Linked DNA regions of Homo sapiens: regions 1 and 3 are each linked to region 2. Evidence: fine-mapped expression QTL. A gene starts in region 2. Each other region holds a variant in brackets. All regions are shown on one strand. Distances are from middle to middle.

Region 1 (8,176 bases), 110 kb after region 2:
AGTCTAATTACTGGGTCCAGGGTGACATAGGGGAGCCCCGTGGAACCAGGACCATCTGCTCAGGTCTCTCTGCTGCCCTGTGGCTCTGAGGGTCCTGCAGGAGGGAACCGCTGTGACCAGGACAGAGCGGGTCTTCCTGACACTGCGATACTGGCTTGAAGGAAGTGATGAAGAGCACACGTCCCTGGGTGGCCCTAAGCCAGGCTCAGCACTGGGGCCGATGGTCCTATCTAAGCCAAGCAGGCCCCAGAGCTTTCCCTGGTGCCCACAGCTCCATGGTCCAGGGTCTGAGATAGGAGGCTCAGATCTGGGTTGCTGATAAACTAGGCATCTAGTCCAGGGGCTGCTGGAGGCAGGAGGAGCCAAGACCTTCTCCTTGAGCTAAGATGAACTTAGGAGGCCAGGAACAAGGTCAGGAGGGCAGGGAGGAGCTCAGAAGGCCGAGGACAGGCTTGGGAGGCTGAGGACTCGCTCAGGAGGCTGAGGACCCGCTCAGGAGGCTGAAGAAGAGCTCAGGAGATTGAGGATGGGCTCAGGGCCTGGGGACAGGCTCTGGATGCTGGGGAGGAGCTCAGGAAGCCGGGGACAGGCTCAGGGGGCTGAGGAGGAGCTCAGGAGGCTGGGGAGGAGCTCAGGAGGATGAGGATGGGCTCAGGGGGCTGAGGACGAGCTCAGGAGGCTGAGAATGAGTTCAGGAGGCCAAGGCCGAGGTCAGGCGGTGGGGATGGGCTCAGGAAGCTGGTAACACTCTAATCCAAAAGCCCTTGGGCTGAGCAGAGCCCACCACTGGACCAGGGCCCGTGGCCGTGGGGGTCCCCAGGGAAGTTGCAGAGGGTGGTCTGAGCTCAAGGTAGTAGGAGTGGGGGTACCCCCCAGCTTCCCCCACACCCACCCCCATTTCCCTGCACACTGTGGCGTTGTCATGGAGGCGCTCTGCTCAGAGCCAAGCGGACCACACCCCACCATTCAGGCCCAGACACCCAGAGCCACCAGCACTTTCCACCGGGACAGGGCCTTCTGAGACAACTTTCCAGGACAGGCAAGGTGGGGACACCTCTGAGCCCCTTCCAGGAGCATATGATGAAGGAAAGGAAAGAGCAGAAATAATAATACTAGAAGTGGCCAGCAGCAACGGTGTGTCAGACACAGTGCCCAGCTCCCGGCAGAGTGGCTGGACACCGCACCATCTCCAGGCTGTGATCCAAGTTTCCCTCCCAGCCTAACTGTACCGGCTCCCTTTCAAGTGGTCGGCTGGCTGCCTCTTGTCAGCAGGCAGCAAGGAGGAAAAGAATGCCTTTCTGCTTCTCATTGGTAAAACCTTCCGCCCAGATAAGATGAGAGACAAAGATTTGGGAGAAAACCTGCTGCGAGCAAGGCCTGCCCTGAAAGGTGGAGTGCCCTGCACCTGGGCTGTGTCTCCCAGCCGGCCGTGCGGTCCACCGAGGCAGGGGCACATGTGCTCGAGACACGGCCCATGGTGAGGACCTGCACACAGACACCATTCACTCACGCACACACTCACGGAGGACACACCCACCCATATTGACACACTCACACACTGACACAGGTACACATTCACACACTCATGGACACACACACACACAGGCACACACAGACATGCATTCACACCACACACCTACACAGAAGCACTCACACACTCATGGACACTTACATCAGTACAAACACAGACATATTTGCACACGCACACAGACACACTCTCCTATACACCCACGGGGCACACATTCACACTCGCACACACACATCCACACTCACCTACACACCCACACACATTCACACACTCACACTCATGGGCACACACACCCACACAGACACAGAAACTCATGGACACACACACCAATGCAAACACAGATATTTTCACACACAGGTGTACATACACACTCAGCTACGCACCCACACAGGTGGATATGTGTGTATAGGAAAAGACACTCTCCAGGGTCGGGCACTCCCCGGTTTCAGGCATCTGCTGGGGTCCTGGAAGGCCCCCATGGGTGAGGGGCCACAGCGCACGCAGCCCCCAGCTCCTGGCTCTCACCCATTAGAAAGGACACCTGCCGCCCTGGGCATGAGCAGGACTGTGGGAGATTTGGGGTGGGGGCTTCACCGACGAACTGTGGGATTCTCCTCATCTGAGGCTGCTCCTGAGCCCACACGGATTTAGCATTTCACGTGCTGCTCACTAAACTGAGTGAACGAGTGGCAAATCAGCCACTGTGCGAGCCGCCTCTGTGGGAACCCAGGGCCGGGCTCTGCTCTGCAGACCTCTCCCCTGCCCAGGCCTTGGCTCCAGTGGGCACTTGTCCTGCCAGTGGCCATGGCCCTGGCAGGCTCCTCTGTTTTCCTGTCCATGAGCCCCTGCAAGAGGCCTTCTCTGTTCCAGTCCCTCGGCATCCCGCTCTCCTGGCTTCTCTGGGTGAGGAGTGAGGAAGGGTCACAGAGGGTCCTGCCTGCCCGTCAGTACCTCAGGGCCTGCTTGGAGGTGTGTGGGGCCCTTGTCCTCGTCCTTGGGTCTGTGACTCCAGATCTGAGGCCTGTTGGCCGGCCCTGCACCAGAGCTGCCTGCCTCGCTCCTGTGAGGAGGGACCCAGCGGCCCCCAGACAGGGGCAGAGGACAAGGTCGTCCTAATGCTGGGAGACGAAAGCCCCTTGGCGCTGTCCTGCGCCCGCAAGCCCTGCCACCCCAGTTTCCCTCTCGCTCTGCAGACGATGCCCTTGGCCTCATGCCCCAGTGCGTGTGGTGGAAGAGACGCACAGCGCAGCCTTGGGAGCCTGCCGGAGGCCCCCTGAAGGCTCAGCCTGCTGCTCTGACCCCCACACCAGCTGGAGTCCAAGTTTCCAGGAAGACTTCATCTCCCTTGCCCCTCGTCTGGTTCTCGGAGAGCTGGATGGGGCTTTCGCTCAGCAGCACGGGCACAGCTCCACTTCCAAAATGTGAGGGGCAGGGGCCCAGGTGTTGGATGCCTTCAGAGCCCTGGAGCCCCGGGAGGGGCTCTCAAGCCCACCTGCCTGAGTCGGGCATCAGGCAGGGAGAGTGCTGGGGCCTCCGCCCCTGCTGGCCCAGTGATGAAAACCAAGCATGAAGGGTGGGTGTTCATTGGTTACTTGCTGTGTGTGGCCTCTAAACATGCACCATTCCCTTTAATTTTCACAGGCTTCATGGGATGGTATTAGTGTTGCCACCGGACAGGCTGGCCCTGTGGAAGGAACATGGGCGTGGGCAGTTCCTGGCCTCTGGTCTTGACTCCTGACTCGGTTCCACCCCCTTGGGATGCTTGGCCCAATTCGTGGCTCAGAGCCCGGCTCTATCTATTTAATGGGAGCTGCACTTGAGGAGGGCCAGGGAATCATCTGGGCCAGCAGAGGCAGAGGCCCCCGCACGCTCCCTGCCCGATGCCCGACTCAGGCAGGTGGTGAAGGCATCCGAGACCTGAGCCCCTGCCCCTCACACTTTGAAAGTGGAGCTGCGCCCCTGTTGCTGAGCAGAAGCCCCACGCATGCAGGGGTGGGTTGGGAGGGGCCCCTGCCAGAGCCTCTCTCTACGCCGGCCTGGCTGTGGCATGTTCTCTCCAGATTTCCTCCAGGAGACGGCCCTGGTCCCTTGCCACAATAGAAATTATGCCCCATAATTTTCTGTTGTAAAACTTGATCTTTTTCTGCAAGCAAGTCATTAAAACTTCAGCTCTTGCACGCTCCATGTCCCATGAATGCCCAGGCCTTAGCACAGCTTCCGCAGTGCCAGAAGTTCCGTCAATCATGTTGAGTGATTGTAAATCACTCAATCAGTGGATGTAAATATGTGTACAAGAAGAAAGGAAGGAGTGGGGACACGGCCCCTTCCCCACAAGCCTCTCTCAAAAACCCGAACCTAACAGAATACAGGGGTGGAAACATGAACCTTTTCTCCATCTTCTGACCCTTAAGGACAGAGAGAAGCAGCAGGTTGTGATGTCAGTAGGAACTTGCAGACCAGGACAGCTGAGCGCTCACCGACGGCTCGCAGGACACCCTCAGTCACCGCCGCGCCCATCAGAAGAAACAGCAGGAACCAGACATTGCTCTGCCTGCAGAAATCACATCTGAAAATCAACTCTGCTTTGCTCCAAGCGACGGAGCTTTTTCATAAGTATAAAAAACAGCTAACTGGATAAAAACACCTTTCCTGGGGACCTGAGTGCTGCAATTCAAAGGGGCTGGCAGTGTGAGGCTGGAGAAGGGCTCCTGCAAGGCTCTTAGCTGGGCAGGCCGAGGGAGGCCCCTCTCGGTGAGCACGAAATCAGGGATGCCCCGGGCCGGTTAGGGATGGGGCCTGGACACCGTGAGATTTCCAGCAGGCTACACCTGGGGCTGCAGCCGGGGCAGCCCCCACAGAATACTCAGAGGCAGCGGGAAGTGCGGGCTGGTGACGAGAGTGGGAACACTGCCCCACACGCAGCCGCCTCGGTGCCACCTGGCGGACAAGCCGCCCCTGTCCCCCGCTTGGCCTCTCCACATGGCACATTTGCCCCTGGCAGTGCCCAGCCCCAGGTCCGGGTGACTGGGGACAAAGAATACCGATGGAAAAACAAGCTAACGAGCTCCTCCTAGGGAAGAGGCCCGCGCCAGGGAGGAGGCGGCCGTCTGGGCGGAGCTTCCCGATAGCCAGGCCCGGGCGGTGCCAGGACACTCACCTCAGGTCTCACCTGCAGAGCATCCACGAGTCACTCACGCTGGGCCAGGCACAGGCTGTGCACACAGAGGGCAGATCCAGACCACACGAGAGCATAGGTGCCCACGGGTGTGCAGGGATTG[T/C]GGGGGGAAAGGAGTGTGTGCTTGTGTGCCTGTAGGCGTGGGTGAGTGTAGGTGTGCCTGTGGGAGGGCGAGACCATGAGTGTGAGGGTGCGCGTGTGCCTGTGGGAGGGTGTGTGGGTGTGGGTGTGCGTGGGAGGGTGTGATTCTCTGTGGCTATGCCTGATTGTGTGTACATGTGGGTGCACATGCTGCACGTCTGTGCTGCAGGAACCCATAGGGCCAACCTTAGGTCCTAATTCTGGGCTGACCGTGTGCCGTCCCCCACGGGCCCCTGCATCCTCAGTTCCTCATCTGTGCTGTGGGCAGAAGCTGGGCTGCCCCACACTCCAACATCCCTAGAAGGGAAGGGATGGGGGCAGGGCTGGCTGCAGGGACAGCCTCGCCCACAGCAGACACGGAGGCCGCAGGGTCATGCCCTGGATGGATGTCACCCAGGAAAGGTTTTGCCTCCTCCAGTCTTTTAAATCAGGCTCCAGGGGCTACGATTACAGCCCTGGGCTTTCTCCCACCCCTCAGCCTCCCTCCTTAGTAGCTCCACAGCAGCTCCCTCCCGAGAGCACACCACCCCTGCACGCTCGGAGCTGCATCCTCCAGCCCCTCATTCCCCGCTCATCTACTCCGACCCAGCTAGGGATCCGGCTTCCCTCTTAGGGCCATTTCTCCTTTGCCAGCATTTTCTCTTTTTCCCTTCTGTCATGCTCTGCTACGTCCTCATGCAAAATTAAGCCCAAAACGGTTTCAGTTACTCCCAACCCTGAGACGAGTTTTAAAATAGTGACAGGATGAACATTGCACCTCCCATGTGAGGGCTGTAAGGGACTGGCAGTTCCAAATGCATCTTCCACTCGCAAAGTTGCTAACACAAATCCCATGGGGAAAAGGGAACTGCTGACCTTTCAGCGTGCAGATCTTCCCTTTGATGGGTTTGCTTGCCTTCAGAAGAGCCCAGGAAAGCTCTGCACAGAGGCCTGTGTGTTTCCGCCCCTCCTGTAGGAAATGAACGGGTGCGTCTTCTCCGTTGCCTTTATTGATCAAGGCCAAAATCACAAGTATAAATTACCACGGTGGGAAACGAGCTGCTCTGATGAGAGGCAGGTGGAGGAGGCTGCCTCGTCAATAATGCATCTGATCAGAAAGAAGGGGCTGATCAGAGGGAGGCCGGGCTCTTTGAAGGTTCTGGTTTTCCCATGGAAAGCTCCACCAGCTCTCTGCCTGCCGAGTTCCTGCTCTTGCCCAGACGGGAAGTGCGAGTAGCTTTCATATCAGACCTGCCGCTCACCGCACCGAACTGATTCCATGGACACTGACATTTGTCTCTGCAGCAGGGATGGCCGCCCTGGCCCAGGCTCCTGTCGCTGTGGATGCCTCTGTCTGGCACAGACTTTCGGTGTTAGAGCCCCAGGTGAAGGTCTGAAGCAAGAAGGAAAAGGACACAGAATCCCATCCCTTCTGAACCTGCGGGGTGCAGCTGCCCTGAGATCCTGTAGCATTTCACTGGGAGCCGACAGGGATGGTTTGCGCGCTGCCGGGATGCGTGAACAGGGGAGTCCATGAGGCCCCAGGGCTGACTCAGGGCACGTGCAGTTTGGGGAGCAGCCAGGGAGGCCTCCCGGGCAGCCGGTTGGAGGACAGAGCTGAGGACATGCAGGCTGTCTTCTATGATCAAGGGTGGGTGAGGCACAGAGGAACTCTGGTGACTGGATGCAGCCGTGAGGGGCCGTGGCCCAGAGAAGCACAGCGGTGTCTCACCTGGCTTCTCCGCAGGCCTCAGACTCATGTCCTCAGGTGCAGGTGCCGGGCCCTCCTCCAACAGTGAGCTCCAGCTGCCTCCCCGCTCAGGGGCCACTCTGCTCTGATACGGGCTCTGATACCGGCCTGCAGCTCCCCTGCTCTTGGTTTCTGCCTGGTGTCACCTTCTTCCACGACACCCAGTCCCAGGATGACTGACGCCCAGGGAGATCTGTCGCCTCTCCTCAGAGACCACGTGTGTTCACCCTCAGCAGCAACACGCTGCTCCTTCCTCAAGGCGTCCTGAGGCATTGTGCATTTTCACCATTTCTGGGATGTAAAGAAGGAGGAATATTTGTCAGATAGAGAGAATACCGGTTCAGATGGTTGGTGGCTCAGATAGAGGTGGGGTTTGTTCCAGCCAGCAGCCCGTCCTGAGAACCAGGCTGGAAGAAACACCCTTCCCTGTGGCACCACAACACCTACACCGAGGTGTCTGTGCTGCCTGGAAAGCACAGCGGGTCTCCCCAGTGCTGGGGTCATCCGGAGAGCCAAGCACCTTCCAGAGGGGCCTCGAAGTGGGGGCGCAGGCCCCCCAGGGTGCTCAGGCCAGACCGCCTCCTCTCAGGTGGTTCAGCAAGAGCTTCCTTCTGCCTCAGATCCTTCCAGGGTGTGGACTCTCTTTTCTTATGATTCTTTTCTGACTTCACCTTACGTCACTCCTCTCCAAACCTAGATGGTAAGCCCGGTGAGGGCAGGGACCCAGCCTCCCTCATTTGCAAAGCAACCACAGTCCCTGCCTTTGAGCTGGGCTGCGGGTGCCAAGCTGGAGAGCATTTCGCCCTCTCCCACTGCTGCTGAAACAGAAACCACAAATTTAGTGGTTTAAAATAGCACAGATTTCTTCTCTTGCAGAGCTGGAGCTCAGAAGTCCGAAATGAGTTTCACTGAGCCAAAGCCAGGGAGTCAGCAGGGCTGGTCCCTCTGGAGGCTGCAGAACACCTGCTCTGCACCTCCTCCGACCTCTGCAGCTACTCGGCACCCAGGACAGCTGTGCGGCCTCTGCTGTGTCTGAGCTGCTGTTGTTCCATGGCCCTCTCTGTGAGCTTGCTGTCTCCCTCTCATAAGGGCCCTCTCATAAGTCATCTGGATGACCCAGAACAACCTCCCAATCTCTAGACACTTATCCCGACTCCATCCATAGAGCCCCTCTTGCATGTAAGGTAACGTGCCCACGGGTTCGTGGGATTAGGATGTGCACACCTTTGGGGGCCTGATGTAGCTGACCATGCCCACATCTGGTGGGAACCCACCTTCAGGGTTTCTTCTCCTTGGACACAGGCTACAGCCCAAGCCAAATGTCCCAGAGCCTGGAGCAGGGCCCCCCTCCCCCACTTTCCCCAAAGAGGCTGGCGCGGGAACAAAGCCCCTGTGTGGTCAGGAGCTGGGAGGGCAAGACAACAGGACAACAGGACAAGAGGACAACAGAACAACAGGGCAACAGGGCAACAGGACAACAGGGCAACAGCCATCCCAGCTGGAGAAGATTCTCAGGGCTGAGGTGGAGGAGGTCGGGCCTCAGCCGGGCTCAGAGTGGAACTGCTGGTCCTCCTGTCACAGGAGGGAGGGGCGGTGGGACGAG
Region 2 (8,176 bases):
ACCCCAGGCTGCTGGGACCCTTTCAGCACCAAGGTTGCTTCTGAGACACACATGAAGCTAATGCCTGGGACTGCTGGCCTCATCACACAGCGCAAAGAAAGCCCTGCCTTCAGGCTGTCATGGCCTCTGCACCTGCCCACAGCTGTGTGCACCCAGGCCCACTCCCTGCAATCCCCGGGGAGCAGCTGCTCCCACTAAAGGGCCTCAGCCCCGCCCTCACTACCTCTCCAAGCACTGGTGACAAATGGGACCTTCACAAACAATCGCCTACAAGCTGAGAACAATGGCACCAAACCTCCACGCTCAGAAGCTGCAGTGGCATATTTTCCTGAAATCAGCAACTGGATGCCCTTTTTTGTCCAATTCAGCAGATCCCAAAGTACCTGGAGATGTTGCCTTCAAACTCCTCCATCTGGGAGGCCCAGGCCTCCGTCCTGAGCCCTGCCTATGTCTCCTCAGTATGAAACTGCACAGCGCCTTGCTGAGGTCTGACGAAGGACGGCTTCAAAACCACAAGAAGCAGGCTCATGGCTGTCTCCCCACCCAGCCAGGGTCGTGTGTAGAAAAGCAGGAGAGTTCCATGCACACGCTTCCGGTGGAGGGGTCACCGCCGCCAGAGATACCCCTCTATTCCTCTACCCCAGGAGGGAAGGACTCTGTCATCCAGTTGGCACCCCCGGGACCACCCAGGTGAGGACGCAGAGCGCAGTGGACCGGCTGTCCAGGCGTCTCCCCGCTCATCGTGCGGCAGATCAGGAGCACATCCAGTGTGAGAGCACACGAGACGCGAGCCCTCTGTCCCTCCTCGCTGCCCGTGCAGATTGCTGCAGGAGGTGACGCTGCCGTAATGAGCAACGGCCTCCCAGACCTCTCTAACACATAGCCTGCCCCAGCAGCCCTGATGCCACACAGCCGGCACACAGACGGCCCTGAGTGCACCCAAGGACACCTACCCACGCTGGTGATCCTCTGGGAGCTGAGGTCGTGCAGCAGGGCCTCGATGGCCGGGTTGTGTCTGGAGTACAGCTCGTACCGGTTGATACCAATGTGGAACTTGAGCCAGTTGGGATAGGAGTCCACGGCCGCCTCCCCGGGGGAGAGGAATTCTGCACCTTCAGCACCCGCATGCGGCCTGCAGGGAGCAGCGAGGACGAACATCAGCATGGAAAGAACAGGCCCGTGAGTCGGATGACGGGGAGAGGGCACCGACGCCAGTGTTTTTAACTTTGGGTTCAAGCAAGTGCAGATGTGTTGAAGGCGCCTCTGCTTAAAGAGGGCCCTGCAACGTCTGCGCTTTCTTCTGTGGCCGCTCGGCTGCCAACTAATAACACGGTGAAAGGCCTGTAATTCTTACTCACCCTCTGGAGACACCACAGACAGCTCTAACTACAGCAAAACTAATTCCAGGACGTCAGCGCTGCCCTGCCATCCCCGCCACGTCTGTCCCAGGGTCACCGAAATGGCCCAACCATGACCTCAGCTGAGGGTGCGAGGGGCTGTGGCCCTCCCCTGGAGTAGAGGGGAGAACCTACCATTGACCACAGGCTGCATGAAACTCACAGACACGCCCAGTCTGTCAGGAACCTTCCCCAGCTCTCTGCTTTTGTTCCAACAACCAGGGGCACAATGATGCAAGAGGCTAAATTTGATTTTAATGAGAGCAGCCTTGGGTGGGGAGAGAGGAAGGAGGCAGCACTCTCTCCAGCCCAGGCTCCCATGGAGGACCCGCCGCCCACGCAGCCTGTCCTCACATCTCTGGGGTCAAGGGACCGTTCTGGAGGAGGGACAGACCCTCCGTCTGCCTGCTGGGCTGGAGGGAAACGCGGAACTTGTCCTAGCTCGAATTCACCTAAAGCTGAGGTGCTTTCTGCCGAAGCTCTGTCCTGCGGTGGACACGGGGGCGGGGTGGGGGGCTAGGATACACTTCCTGGCCACTCGCTGCTCTGGGCGGCCGTCTCTCCCTGCCGAGAGCCACAGCCCAGGCCAATGCTCTGGTTCTCAAATTTCCAAGCATTTCCTTGAACCTGACCAGCAGGCAAGGCTCAGAGGCTTCCAAACAGCCAGTGTGTTTAGACAGAAGACACTGGGCCTGGACATTTCAGGGAAGAAGGGACTTTCAACCAGATCTTTTGGAAGGCTGGTCTCCCCCTCTGCTGCTGGGGTAACCTTCGGCAGGTAGTTACTTATTCTGGCCTTGTCGTGGTTAATGTTCCACTGCTTCGGTGTAGCATCTGCTTGTTTTGATCTGTGTGGCGGAGGGAGGGGCCGGGGGGTGGGGAAAGGGCTTAGCCAGGACAGTTTAAAGAGAGGTTCCTGCCGTGGCTTCTCGCCCTTTATCGAGCCATCATCTCTTTGCAGCCAGCACACCCACCGCCCTTGCTGGCTGGGCCGCCTTGTTGCACCTCACGGCTGCCAGCAAGCCCCTCTGATAATTCTGCTCCAGCCACTGGGTTTAAAAGACTCAATAGGCACATCCAGACCTTCTCCAAGGTGCCCACCCAGAGCACCCTCGCCAAGTGTCTGAAAGCCCAGCGGCAGCCTGGCTCCTTCCCTCACCAACTCATTCATTCATTGCCTGACCCCATTTCCCAAGCTGGTGACCACGGCTGGTCAGGACTCGCTTCTAAAGGGCGCGGGGTCTGGCTTCCTCACCAGCAGCCACAGGGCACAGCTCCCGGACCAGCCGGCAGCCCCTCCCAAGGAGGAGGTTATTCTGGAGACAAAGGCAGCGCCCTGAGGTAGGCGGCTGCCTCCTCCCGCACCACACTCCCTGCCCGGCCTCTTCCATGGGGGGCGGCCCTCTGGGGCCCCTGAACCTCTCTACACCATGCCTTGGGCTCACGGCTCCCTTGGGGGTGGGCACCTGCCAGCCCCCACTCACCAGTCCGGGTTCTCCGCCGCTTTGGGGCTGAGCCTGGTGTCGCTGTTCACATTGAACAGGACGTCCTCCTCCGTGAGCGGCGGAACCGCCACCCGGTAAAGCGGGTGCTCGAACAGCCTGGCCAGGAGGGAGGCGTCTCCGCCGGGGCCGGGGGGCGACTCGGACCGACGCGGGCCGGGGTCTCGCAGCAGCGGCCGGTGCGCGGGGTCGTGGGGTCTTAGGGCGCCGGGATCCCGCCCCCGCAAGGCGCGCTCGGCCGGCTCGGCCGCGGGCGGCAGTTTCTCCAGCGAGTGGGACGAGAGGTTGGAGGAGGGGTCGGAGCTGAAGTCCTGCAGGATGCGGAGCGTGTGCTTGTTGGGCCAGCCCGCGTCGCCGGCGGCGGAGGAGGCGGCCGGGGGCTCCCCGGGGCGGCCCCGAACCTGGGCCCAGCCGGGCGCGGCCACCTCGGCGGCGGGCTGCGCGCACGAACAGCCGGGCTCCCCCGAGGGCCGCGCGCCGCGTCGCTCCAGCCTGGGCAGCAGGTCCAGGGCGATGTGCAGCGCGCAGGCCACCAGGAACACCATCAGGATGAGCACGCGGAACCGGCGCACCAGCATCATCTTCATGGCCGCGCGGGCCGGCCCGGGCCTGGAGCGCGTTCTGCCCGCGCGCCCCTCTAGCTGCAGCTGGGCACGAGCGCGGCGCCGCCTCGCGGGTCAAGGTCCATCGGTGCCGGGCGGCTACCAGCTCCGGGGCTGTCCCCGGGCCCGGGCCGCGTGCAGGGCGCCCGCCGCCGGAGCGCTGGGTCCCCGCGCCATCTCGGGCCCGTCCCCGCTCGGCCTCTCCGGAGCGGCCGCGCCCTCAGCCGGGGAGCCCAGGGGTCCTGGTCCGCGGAGCCGGGCGCGCGGGGGGCGGCTGGGGCCGCAGCAGGGGGAGGCTCGGCGCTCGCAGCCGCCGGCGCGGGGCTCATCGGGCGTGTGGGTCCATCCCGGCCGGGGCGCGACGGGCCTGGGCGGTGGCGGCGGCCGCAGGCGTCCCGATCCTCAGCGCGCTCCTCTCCAGGCGCCGGGCGGGCGGGCGGGGAAGGGGCGGCTCCTCCGGGCCGGGCTCTGCTCTCACGCCGCGCCCGGGAGACCGGGGCTGGGGGGAAGGGGGGGGCGAAGGGCGGAAGGGGTGGGCGCGGGGAGCGGCCGGCGGGGTCCCGGGCAGGTGCAGCGGCCGCCCCGAGCGCAGCTCCCGCCTGGCCGAGCCTCTCGGCGCCCCGCGTCCCGGGCGGGCAGATATCGAGCGCCGCGGAGCCGCCCCCCGCGTCAGCGCCCACAGATTGGCGGAGCCGCCGCCCCACGAGTCACGGCTGGGCCCGGGCCGGCTGCGCTCCCGCTCTCCTTCCTCCTCCCCTCGGCCGCGCCCCGCGACGCCTCTGAGCTCCGGGCCCGCTAAGGAGAGGGCTCCTCCTGCCCGCGGTTTGCAGAGGGAAGCGGCGGAGACCGGGAGGGCGCGCTCGGTTCTGGCCAGGCCAGCAGCTGCGGCCGAGTGGGGGGCTCCGGCCTGGCCGCTTCCTGGGACCCCCTCCCGCCCGGGGCCGCCGCCGCCAGCTGCAGCCTCTCGGCTCCTCCCCAGAGGAGCGCGGGGCCGGGGCCCAGGCCAAGTCCCTCCCCGGAGCCGCGGGGCGTCTGCGCCGCCGGATGAGCTCCCCGCCGGGCGGCGACCCCGTGCCCCACGCCCGTCTCGGCAAGGAGGAGGCGGAGGCGGCCCCGCGAGAGAGGCCCAAGGAGCGACTGGGCCTGGACCCAGGGGACGCCAGGGCAGCGGAGCTCCCGGCACCGGTCCCGTCCCCCCCCCCCCGCCCACCCGCGGGACGCGCCCGCCTTAACCCTCCAGGCGCCGGGCCCGCTGGGGGCGCTGAGAGGGGCTGGTGTGCCGGGGGCGCCTTCCTGCTTGGGGCCGACGGGGGTGTGTGAGTGCAGGCGTGTGCGTGTGTGTGCGCATGTGTGTGTGTGGATGTGCGTGTGCGTGTGTATGCCTGTGTGTGTTTGTGTGTGCGTCTGTGTGCATGTGTGTGTGCACATGCATGTGTGTTCACGTGAGTGCATCTCATCTGTCACCCACAACCAGGGGAGCGGTGCTTGTACAACCAGCTGGTGGCTTCTGCAACCAGCAGCTTCTGGCCGTGCAGCTCCCTGTAGGGAATATGAGTTAATCTGGATGTCAGCCTAAGATGTAGTCAGGGAGGTAAGTGTGTGGGAGGAGGCCACATCCCCTGTGCCTCAAGCCGGCTGCTTCCACAGTGCCCAGACTGCCTGGGCCAGCAGCCTCGCCAGCAAGCCCAGGCGGGTGGGCCGGGAGCAGGGCCTGGGCCCCCCCTCTTACTTTCACCGGCTGGCTGTGTTACCAGGGCCCTCTCCGCCCTCTCTGAGCCTCAGTTTCCTCTGATGTGAATTAAGGGCGTTGAGCCCATTGTTCCTGAGGAATCACTCATCTCTGAGCCTGGCCCATTGCCTGGCATTCCGTGGGCACCCACTAGATACTTATAAGGGGAGAAGTTGTTCCAGTCCGGCTGGCCAGTGGAATCCATGCGTCTTGGGCCATTTGAAGTGAGTGAAGGGCTGGGTGCGGCCCACCTGGAGCTGGACTGGAGGCTGTGTTGGGTGGGGCGGTGTGACCTGGAGGTGGGCTGCCCCCTCAGGAGACAGCTTCACCCCTGTGAGTGGACCTCATCCTTCCTTCCTTCCACTCACATGGACAGCACATCTGTGTGTAGACAGGGTCACTGAGAGAGGCCAAGGAGGGTGAGGAGGAAGATCCCGGGTGTGGGGGGAGTCCTGGGGGAGCAGACAGCAGGGACAGAAGCCTGTGGCAGGAAGGAAGGTCTTGGCCTGTGTTCTCCCAGCAAGGGTCCCCTTGGACTTGGAGTTCTATAGGCTCCTGGCCCCCCCATCTCTCCCGTGGTCTACAGGACCTCGACGCAGAGCTGTGGCTAGTGTCTTGGGGCAGACATGGGGCTGAGCAGACCCCATGGAACACTATTATCCGGTGTGGGGGGCCTCATGGAGGTTCCCTGGGCACTTACTTTCACTTGCCTCCTGCCCCCAACTCCTCTCCCCTCCCATCCTCACCCCCAGAGTGGTTTTTGGGAGCCCGGCAGCTATCTGGACCCGTGTGCACCCCTGGACGCCTCCCTCCCTCGCAGAGGGTCCTGGTTCATCTCGTCTGTTGCCTCTTAGAACAGTGGCCTCTACCTCGCCAGGTCCTTCAGAAGCGCCCCCCTCCCTGCCCCGCCACTGTTTTCCCAACAGCACCCGCCGTGGTCTGAGGACACTTTCTTCTGCTCCTGTTTATTGTTTATCTCCCCCAAGCACAAGCAGTCGAGTTAAGACAGGAGCCTCGTTCAAAGTTCCGCCCGGGGCCAGGCACAGCGCAGGCTCTCAGAGGAGGGCCCAGGAGTCCACAGGCTGCGGCGGCGCGAGACAAAAGTCGGAAGACAGGACCCCGCTGAGGAGTGAGGAGACAGCGGCCAACCCTCCGCCAGACCCTTCCGCCTGGTGCCTTTACTGGGCTCTGAGGAGGAATTTGGTGGTTCAGTCGGCCCATCCGTGGACACCATAAAAACAAAGAGAAAACAGACACACACAGATGCACACATAGATACACACAGATACACACAGACACGGATATATAGACACACACAGATACACACACGTGGACACAGACACACACATAGACACAGATATATAGACACACACAGATACACACACGTGGACACAAACACACACAGACATACCCATAGTTACGGATATATGCATGGATACACAATACACAGACACACAGATGATACATGCATAGACAGATATATGGACACACACACACGGACACACAGATACACACATAGACACATAGACAGACACAGATACAGACACAGGCACATGTAGACACACATGGACATACAATACTCAGATGAACACAGAGATAATATACACATAGACACAGATCTATAGATACACAAAGACATACACACAGATATACATAGATGCACACATAGACACAGATACACATGTCATCACACATGGACACACACAGACACACACCAATACACACATAGACATACGAAGACACAGGTACACAGACACGTATACACACAGACACGCATATATACATACAGACGCAGATATACACACAGACACAGACATACACACACACACAGACACAGATATACACAGATACATGGACAGATACACATTCACATACACACATAGATACACAGAAACACACAGACACACAGACACATAGAGACACACACACAGCCACACAGGCCCTGAGCCTCCCTGGGCCCTCCCTTGTGCAGAGGCGGAGGGGCTGGCTGTCGGGGAGGGCACCTGGAGAGGACACACAGCCCCATCAGAGACCAGGGAGTGGCTCTGGGAGCTCTTTTCGTCCAAAGGGGCTGGAGCTCCAGTTAGCCAAGGTGAGCGCCAGGTGGTGACAGGAATGACATAGGAAAATAAGACGGCCCGGGCAGGGAGGGCTGCCTGCTCTGGGTGTGAGGGGATTGCTGTCTTAGACCACGTGGCCCAGGAAGGCCTCCAGGCATGGCTTTGCACAGAAGCTGGTACCTGAGGGCTCAGCCCCGTGGAGGCCTGCGGGGTGGAAATGCCAAGGCTGGGGCAGGGGCATGTCTGACCCTCTGCGGGGAGAGAAGGCCTGTGAGGTGGGCATTGTGTGAGGGGCCAAGTGGCCTCTGTAAGGTCTGCAGGTGGGGCCAGGCTGTGGGCTGCGTCCTGAGTGAGGGGGCCGTGGGAAGGCTGGGGACAGAGGGACGACGCTGGGTCTTGGGTCGGGAGAGGCTCACCTAGGGGCCGGGTGGATGGGTCTAAGGAGGGCTAAGGGCGGGGCAGGGAGAGCAGCTGTGTGGTGAGGACGAAGGGAGGTCGGCCAGAGCCCCCGGGGAAGGGCTGTTGTCATGTGGATGAGCTGGGAATTAGGAAAGCTTGTGGATTGCGAGGCCTCAGTATGCAAAGCCCTGGGACAGACGGGCCCCCCAGGAATGAGGGGGGCAGACGGGCTCCCCAGGAATGAGGGGGGCAGACGGGCTCCCCAGGAATGAGGGGGACAGATGGGATCCCCAGGAATGAGGGGGGACAGATGGGTCCCCCAGGAATGGGGGGGGCAGACAGGCTCCCCAGGAATGAGGGGGGCAGACGGGCTCCCCAGGAATGAGGGGGGCAGACGGGCTTCCCAGGAATGAGGGGGACAGATGGGCTCCCCAGGATAAGGGGGGACAGAAGACCCCAGGCCTGAGGACCAGGCCTGCCCCCTGGC
Region 3 (8,176 bases), 81 kb after region 2:
AGGACGAAATTGGGGAAGCTGTGGCCAGTGGAGGGGGGGAGCGTCCAGAAGGGGAAACTTGGCGGACTCTACTCATGTTTCCGACTGGCCCTGAACTGCACACACTCAAAGCAGATAAAAGAAGCCCAGCTAAAGGCTGGTACAAAATGACCTTCTTTATAATGCTGGTTGTGTTCATTGTTCAATATTAATATAGCTGTTCCCGCTTTTTTTTTTTTTGACTAGTGTTAGTACAGTGTATCTTTTAAAATCCCATTAGTTTTCATGTATTTGTGAATTTATATTTAAAGTGGGTTTTGGGTAGGCAGCAATTAGTTGGGTCTTGCTTTGTTATTAAGTCTGACAAACTGCCACTGAATTAGACCAATGGTTATAGATCATTTTCATCTACCATCACTGTTGATAATGGTTGGACTTAAACCACCATCTTGCTATTTGCATTTTATTTATCCTGTCTACTTTTTGTTTCCTGTTCCTCTTAGCCAGCCTTCTTCTGGACTGGGTATTTTTTAATCATCCCATTTAATCACTTCTGTTGGCTTATTCCCCATAACTCTGTCTGTACATATGTATGTGTGCGTGTGTGTGTATACATTTTAGGGTTTATAGTGTGCACCTTCAACTTATCATAATCTATCTTCAAATAATATTACACTACATCATGATGGTTTAATAACCTTACAGCAGCACACTTCCATTCCCTGCCCTCCTTCATGTCCTTGTGGGCACATATTTTATTTCTCTACATGTTCTATACCCAGCAAAACATGCTTTTCCTTCCTGTGCTTCTATCGGGTCTCCTATAATGTCATTTTCCTCTTGTCCAAAGGACTTTCTTTAATATCTCTTAGTGCTTATCTGCTGGTATGATTAATATTTTAGCTTTTATATGTCTGAAAAACTTGATATCTCACCCTGTTTCTACCTTTGTTGCCAGGTACAGAATCACAAATCAACAGGCTTTTCCCGGCAGTACTTTGCAGAGCTTGTTCCACTGTCCTCTAGCTCGCCTCATTTTCAAGGAGAAACCTGTCGTCATCCTTGTCTTTGTTCCTCTGTACCCAGCACGTCTCTTTTCTTCTGCCTGCTGTTAAGATTGTCTCGTTCTTACCCAGTTTAAGCAGTTTGGTTAAGATGTGCCTTCTTCGTACTTCATACTTTTTGGACTGGGATATGTAGCTTTTAAAAAGCAAATTTCAAAAGATTTCAGTCATTATGTCCTCCTTTTTTTTCTGTTTTTTTTTCTTTGTTTTCTTTCTGGGACTCTAAATGTATGAATTTTAGGCCAATTGAAGTTGCCCCCCAATTAGCTTTCTGCTCCTTTTGAAGGGGTCTATTTTCTGTCTGTGTTTCACTTTGGATGGTTTCTATTATATACCTTTAAGTTCATTAATCTTTCCTTTTGTAGTGTCTGTCTAATCTCATCATCTCATCCAGTGAATTTTCTTTATCTCAGAAATGGTTTCATCTCTAAAAGTTAGAATTGGGACTTTTTAATGTTTTTCATATCTCTGCTTAACGTTATCATGTGGAATAGAGTGATAATAACTACAGTTCATCTGTGTCTAGGAATGCCCTCATCTGTGCCATTTGTGAATTAGTTTCAATTTGTTGATATTCCTCATTACATGATGTGTTTTCCTGCCTCTTTGCATACTTGGTGATTTTTTACTGTATGCTAGACATCATGTACTTTTCCTTGTTAGATCCTGGATAGTTTTGCACTCCTAAAATTATTTTAAAACTTTTCAGGGATGAAGTTACTTTACTTGGAAACAATTTGATATATTTGAGGCTTGATTTTAAGCTTTTTTGGGTGGGGCCTAAATTAGTCTAGGACTGATTATGCTCTACTACTGAGGTGATACCATGCTGAAAAAGCTTAATAAGGAGAAAGATCAATCAATAAATATTCACGTATATTCACAAAATATAATGAGGAGAAAAATCAATCAGTAAATATTCACGTAACCCTAAAAAAAGTTAAGAAATGAGAAACAAAGGGGGGAACTGGAGGGTATGTATAGAGAGCGAGGCATAAAATTACAGACCCAGACATAACCATGTCAATACTTATTTAAATATGAGTGGACCAAAGATTTCAGGTAAAACGCAGAGGTTGTCAGAATAGATATGAAAACAAGACCCACACACATGCTGTCTTCCAAAATTGCACTTGAAGAACAGAGACACAGGTAGCTTTAAATGACATTAAAGTTAAAGCATAAACACTGGAAAGGGAGAAGAAGAACTGCCTCTTTATGCAGATATCATGAATCATGTATGAGGAAGTATCTTAAGAAACTTACAAACAACTAGCATAGGCACTGAGAAAGCGTGGTCTACTCATCAACCACAAACAGGAATGAAGCCCTAACATGCCACAATATGGATGAACCTTGAAACTGAAAACATGATGAGTGAAAGAAGACGGACACAAAGGGCCGCATGTTATATGATTCCAGTTATACGAAATGGGCAGATCTAAAGAGGCAGAACGCAGGTTAGTGGTGACAGGAGCTGGGGGAAGGGAGGAACAGAGAGTGACACCTCGATTGATGTGGTGTCTCCTTTCTTGGTGATGCGAATGTCCTGGGGCCGACAACGTGGTGAACGCACTGGATGCCACTGAATTGTGCACTTCAAAATTGTGAAAATAGTGAATTTTATAATATGTGAATTTTACCACCATAAAAACCAAACTATTAGTACAAATAAAATTAGTTTAGCCAAGTTGCAGCATTTAACTTTCATAGAAAAATCGATTGTATGTCTTTGCTCATCAATATACTACCGTGCCACTTATGGTCCTTTTGAAGAAATGAGACAGCTGATGCTAAGATTTACATGGAAAGACAAAAGGGTTAAAATATCCAGAAACAACTTTGAAAAATAAGAACAAGGTTGTGGGGCCCACGCTACTTGATTTCAAAAATTACTATACAGGTATGGTAATCACGACAGTGTGGTTTTGGCATCAGGAAAGACACAGAGGCCAACTGAGCCGAAGGGGAAGTCAGAAAGACCCACATTTATATAGTCCCTTGATTGCTGGTAAAGGTAAAAATTTAATTCTTTCAGAACTAGCTGTTTCAATAAATGGTGCCAGGATAAGTTGATATCTACATGGAAAAACAAAATAACCTTCAAGCCTTACCTCCCACCACATGCAAAATTATCTTGAGATGGATCATGGACTGAAAATTATTAGAACTTTTAAAGTTCTAGAAGAAAACATACAGAAGAATTTTTATGACTTGGGCTAGAATAAACATTTTTTAGAAACAAGATGTGAAAGCACAGATGATAAAAAATGATAAAACAAATTCAGCAAAATTGAAAAGGTTGCTCAAAATTAAACAGAGTTAAGGGAATGCAAAAGCAGACTACAAACTGGCAGAATAATTTTACAAAATCCACATCTGACAATGGGCTTGTACTCAGAATATATGAAGATATCTTATAAATCAATAATTTGAAAACTGCAGTTAAAAATTGAAAAGGACTTGGACAAATACATGACAAAAAAGATATATGACCCATAGGCACATGAAAAAATGATCAACGTCACTTGCCATCAGAGGAGTACACATTAAAAGCAGTCTAAAGTTAAAAAGATTGACAATACTAAGTGTTGACAAGGATATAGAACAATGGGAATTTACATACAATTTAAATTGGAATGCATGAAATTTGGTTGGAATTTTAAATGGAAATACTTTGGAAAATGGACTGACACTATCTAAGAGGTAAAACATTCACTTACCACATGACCCAGCAATTCCAATCCTAAATATTTACCCCAGGAAAATGAAAACATATGTCCACACAAAGACGTGGACACAAGTGCTCACACCAATGTTATTTGTAATACATCCAAACTGCAAACAGCCCAAATGCCCATCAACAGGCAAGTTGGTAACCTACGGTGCATGCATATTATGAGATACTACCCATTAATAAAAAATGAACAAAATATTAAGCCTACACGACATGGATAAGTCTTGAAATCATCAAGTTAAGTGGAAGAGATAGAGTACTGTTCCATGTCTATGAGCTTCCAGGAAAGGCAAAGTTACAGGGACAGGAATCAGATCACTGTCTGCCTGGGGCTGGGAGCTGGAGGAGGGAATCTAAAGGGGCAGGAGAACACTTTTTAGGAGAATGAAATGTTCCACATCTTGACTGTGGTAGATGTTACATGACTGTATACAACTGTCACATGAATGGGCTTTACTGTTTGTGAATGAAACCTAAACAAGCTAGCGAAAGAAACAGAAGGAGCATGGGCCGGCTGAAGCCGTGTCTGCAGGTGGGTGCTGGAGGCCCTGGAGCCGCGTGGCACAAGCCACAAACCTCAGGTGTCTCCCGTGGGTGGCTGGGGAAGATTAAGGCAACCCTCAAGAAGCCCACCAAGGCGCCACTGGGGGCTCCTGTCTTGGGGCTGTGTGGGGCCAGCCTGGGGAGGC[G/A]GGAGCCTCATAAGAGTCCCCTGAAAGCTACTTCATTTCCAAGCAGAGAAGGGGGTGGGGGTGGGGGGTGCAACACAGAAGGGTCTTGATGGAGAGGGTGTCTGCACAGCACAGTGATTACAGCCCAATCAGGGGTCAGACTTCCTTCGTGGACAGCCTGGTTCTCACCTGCATTCGCTGTGTGACCTTCAGAAAGTGACCTACCGTCTCTGTGCCTAGTCTGCTCTTTAGTAAAAGATGGCTAATGAAGTGGCTACCTTACTGGGCCCTTGAGAGAATGAGATGAGAGAATACAGGTACAGCACTGAGAGCAGCACTGGGATACAGTAGGTGTTCATAAATGGCACCTGCTATCATTATTAGTGATCTAGGAATAGGACCTTAGCTTAAACCCCACTGTGAGAAAAAGGGAAAAGCAAGGAGGAGAGGCTTGTCCAAGGCAGCAATCCCATCTTCCAGACACCAGGCCAAGAGTTCTGGAGCCCGAACACAGGCGTGGCAGAGAGCCTTTGCTGCCCTTCCCCTGCCCACGGGGCGGAGGGGAGATCTCGGGCCCCACAGCTCCTGAGCAGGGCTCGGGGGTCACCCTCAGTGCTGGCAGGGAGTGCGGAGTTGCTTTGACTCACTCAGGAGTAGGTTTGAGCCCTGGTTCCTTTCCTTATCACTCAGAGGCCGATGGCGCAGTAGCTGCCTGAGGAACACACAGCCTTTGCAAGTCTTTGGGAAACAGGAGAACTGTCTTCCTTTGTCCGAGAAGCACTCAAGCTGACGGACAGTGGTGCTGCTACTTGCTGCTATTTCTCTCCAAACTTTGGGACTGCGGCCACAGCGGCGGCCACAGCTGTTATTCCTTGTGTCTGCCAAGGGTCTGAGAGTGGCCTGGCGATTCAGCTGTTCCCTGCCCACAGCCCACCCTACGGGATGGGGCCAGTGATGTCGGATCCCTGGTGGTCCTGGTTCTGGCTATCGCTGGAGGGGACACAGACTCCACCTGCGTTGAGCGTGCCGCTCCCTGTGTTCTCCATCTCCATGTTCCCACCTCTTCCTGCTCTTTTCCCCGTGCTTTCAGCTACCTAAGGGTCGCCACTTACCGTCCCTGCAGAGTGCAGAGATTTCTCTTTGAAGAAAAGGTTCTGGAGCAATCAGAGGGGTGAGTGTGGATGCAGCCAGCCCCAGCCCTATGCTGCTCCTCAGACTAATGGTGCTGAAGGCTAAGAGAACGAATAAATGGTAGTGAGCGTTTTTCTCATTAGGGTTTTAAAATCCTCCAAGTAATAGATCATTTTGTAGCATCTTACATGTCCTGCTTATCCTAATAATGTGTTATTACTGAATCTCAATAATTTTAATGGGGAAATTCTTTATCTTAAAAAATGTGAAGTGGCTATCCATTTAAAAAGTGTTAACGAGGTAACTCCAAGGGTTTCAATGAACAAGGAGGCCCATAGCTGTAGTGACCCAGTGCCTTCGTGTTTTAGACACTAGCTGAGATCTGCACACTGGAGCCATGGCCGTGGAGGGAGCAGTGACCAGGACCTGCCTCCCGCAGTTGGGGGCCTTTGGTGCTCAGCCCAGGCTTCTGTGCTGGGATGCAGGGCCAGTCTGTTCACACAGACCAGGATAGGCCCTGGACGCGTGCACAGACAAACCCCCACAGGGGTTCATTTTATCTGGGGTGTGGCAGGGAATCATGAGCTGAACAGAGATGCTGGATGCCGAAAACAGCCTCTGTCCCTGCCTCTCTGCCAGCGCTTGCTGTTTGCCTGGAAACAATCCCTCTCCTTCCTTGGCTGCAGTTTTCTCACCCATGAAGACGTGTTCAATGCAGACGTACCGAGTTTCCTCTGGGTCTTCCTGGTTGCCTGGCGTCTCCAAGTGCTCATTTCTCTTCCTTGCTCTTGCCCACCCCACGGGCCCTTCCCCCGTGAGCGAGCTTCACAGACACACACAGACACTAGTGGTTTGGGGTCCTTAGTTGAGGCCATCTTAACTGGCTTCCCTCACCTCCCGAGTGGCAGGCTAGGAGGAAGCGGTGGTTTATTACAGGGACAGATCACACTGTGCCAGGGAAGGCCAGGAAAATATATTCCCATTTTACTTCCTCTAATAATCTCCTATTTTCATCAGTGGGTGAGTGAACATGGCTTCTTCTTCCCAATGATGGTGCAAATGTATAATTTCTCCCAATGAAATCTGATTTTAATGAGAGACTAAATCAGAGGAAAGAGTATTATTTAGATAGTATATGCACATGTCAGGTTAATTTAAAATCAGCTTTTAGGTCAATCTATCTTAATTATTCTATTAACCGTTTTTGACTAGCAATTCCAATAATTGTGTTTGCGTAATACTTGGCAGTGTAATTGCTTTTTGGATTCTCTTCATTGTTTTGTCAGAGTCTGTTCCTGGGCCTCTGTCCCTGGTGAGCTGTGCTTGGGTTGAGTGTGTGCTTGGGTTGTGTATGCACATTCGTGCAACTGCACATGTGCTTGGGTTGAGTGTGTGTGTACAAGTGTGTGTGTGTGCACATGCTTGGGTTGAGTGTGCAGATGGACGTGCATGTGCATGCATACCTGGGTTGTGTGTGTGTGCACATGTATGTATCTGCTTATGTGCTCTAGTTGAGCATGCATGGGTGTCTATGTGCACATGTGCTTGGATGGAGTGCATGTGTACATGCACATATGTGCAGAAGTGCTTGCATAGTGTGTGTGCATGGGTATCATGTGCATGTGTGCTTGGGTTGAGTGTGTGTGCACATGTGTACATGGGTGCATGTGCTCAGGTTGAGTATGTGCATGTGCACACGTGTTTGGGTTGACTGCATGGGCATGGGCATGCAATGCATATGTGTTTGCATCATGTGTGTGCACAGAAGTGCATGTGCTTGCATTGTGTGTGCATGGGTATGCATGTGTGCACGTGCTTGTGTTGAGCATGTGTGCATGTGCTCAGGTTGGGTGTGTCATGGGTGTAAGGTGCACACGTGTTTGGGTTGACTGTGGGCACAGATGCACACATGCATGCATGCTTGGGTTGAGTGTGTGTGCACAGGTGTGCATGTGCACATGTGCTTGGGTTGAGTGTGTGCCTGGGTGTCATGTGCACGTGTGCTTGAGTGTGTGCATGGGTGTCATATGCACATGTGCTGGGGGAGGTGCTTCCCTGATTATTAATGAATGTATTTTCATGGGGTTTATTGATATCAAGGACCCCTGTCTTTATTTTTTATTTTTAAAATAAACTTCATTTTAGAACATTGTTAGATATAAAGAAAAATTGTGATGATAGCACAGAGTTCCTGTATACTCCACACCCAGGTTCCCCTACTCTTACCCTGTCACATTATACTGTACCTTTGTCACAGTGAATTAGCCCATGTCGATACAGTAGTAGGAACTAAAGTCCATACTTTATTCACATTCCCTCAGTTTTCCCTTAATATCCATTTTCTACCTCAGAATCCAAAGTATGATGTTACAGTTGGCCCTCATGTCTCCTTAGGGCCCTCGCAGCTGTGACAGATTCTCAGACTTTCCTTATTTTTAGTGATCCTGACAGTTTTGAGGAGGACTGGTTGGGTATTTTGTGGAATGTCCCTCATTTGGGACTTGTCTGATCTTTTTCCTGTGATTAGTTTGGGGTCACGGGTTGTGGGGAGGATGGAAAGTGACCTTCCCACAGCATCACACCAACGTCCTTGCTGT

Evidence for each region. PIP is the estimated chance that this variant, and not a neighbour inherited with it, causes the effect.
Region 1: its variant is fine-mapped to the expression of FAM20C in blood mononuclear cells (TOPMed, PIP 0.97). The same link has a PIP of 0.9 or more in monocytes.
Region 3: its variant is fine-mapped to the expression of FAM20C in whole blood (GTEx, PIP 0.95).

Annotation. Positions count from the first base shown.
Region 1 is chr7:78,818-86,993 of GRCh38, reverse strand. The region is part of intron 1 of LOC105375113 (a long non-coding RNA gene); the gene reads left to right. It overlaps LOC101929756 (a long non-coding RNA gene), which reads right to left. Exons shown (of 3, transcript NR_187733.1): 2 at 5,700-6,864; 3 at 3,645-4,079. Among named protein-coding and RNA genes, the nearest start is that of FAM157D, 47 kb to the right of the region's middle. RefSeq lists enhancers at 1-455, 1,180-1,903, 1,904-2,627, 3,921-4,691, 4,692-5,464. The variant T/C (reference allele first, on the strand shown) is at 4,807.
Region 2 is chr7:188,510-196,685 of GRCh38, reverse strand. FAM20C (FAM20C golgi associated secretory pathway kinase) reads right to left here and starts at 4,115. Exons shown (of 10, transcript NM_020223.4): 1 at 2,882-4,115; 2 at 954-1,132. The coding sequence starts at 3,486. It overlaps LOC124901808 (a long non-coding RNA gene), which reads left to right and starts at 6,568. Exons shown (of 2, transcript XR_007060632.1): 1 at 6,568-8,176. RefSeq lists enhancers at 361-1,338, 7,763-8,176.
Region 3 is chr7:107,228-115,403 of GRCh38, reverse strand. LOC105375114 (a long non-coding RNA gene) reads left to right here. Exons shown (of 3, transcript XR_926959.3): 3 at 1-2,748. Among named protein-coding and RNA genes, the nearest start is that of LINC03015, 38 kb to the left of the region's middle. RefSeq lists an enhancer at 6,014-6,730. The variant G/A (reference allele first, on the strand shown) is at 4,470.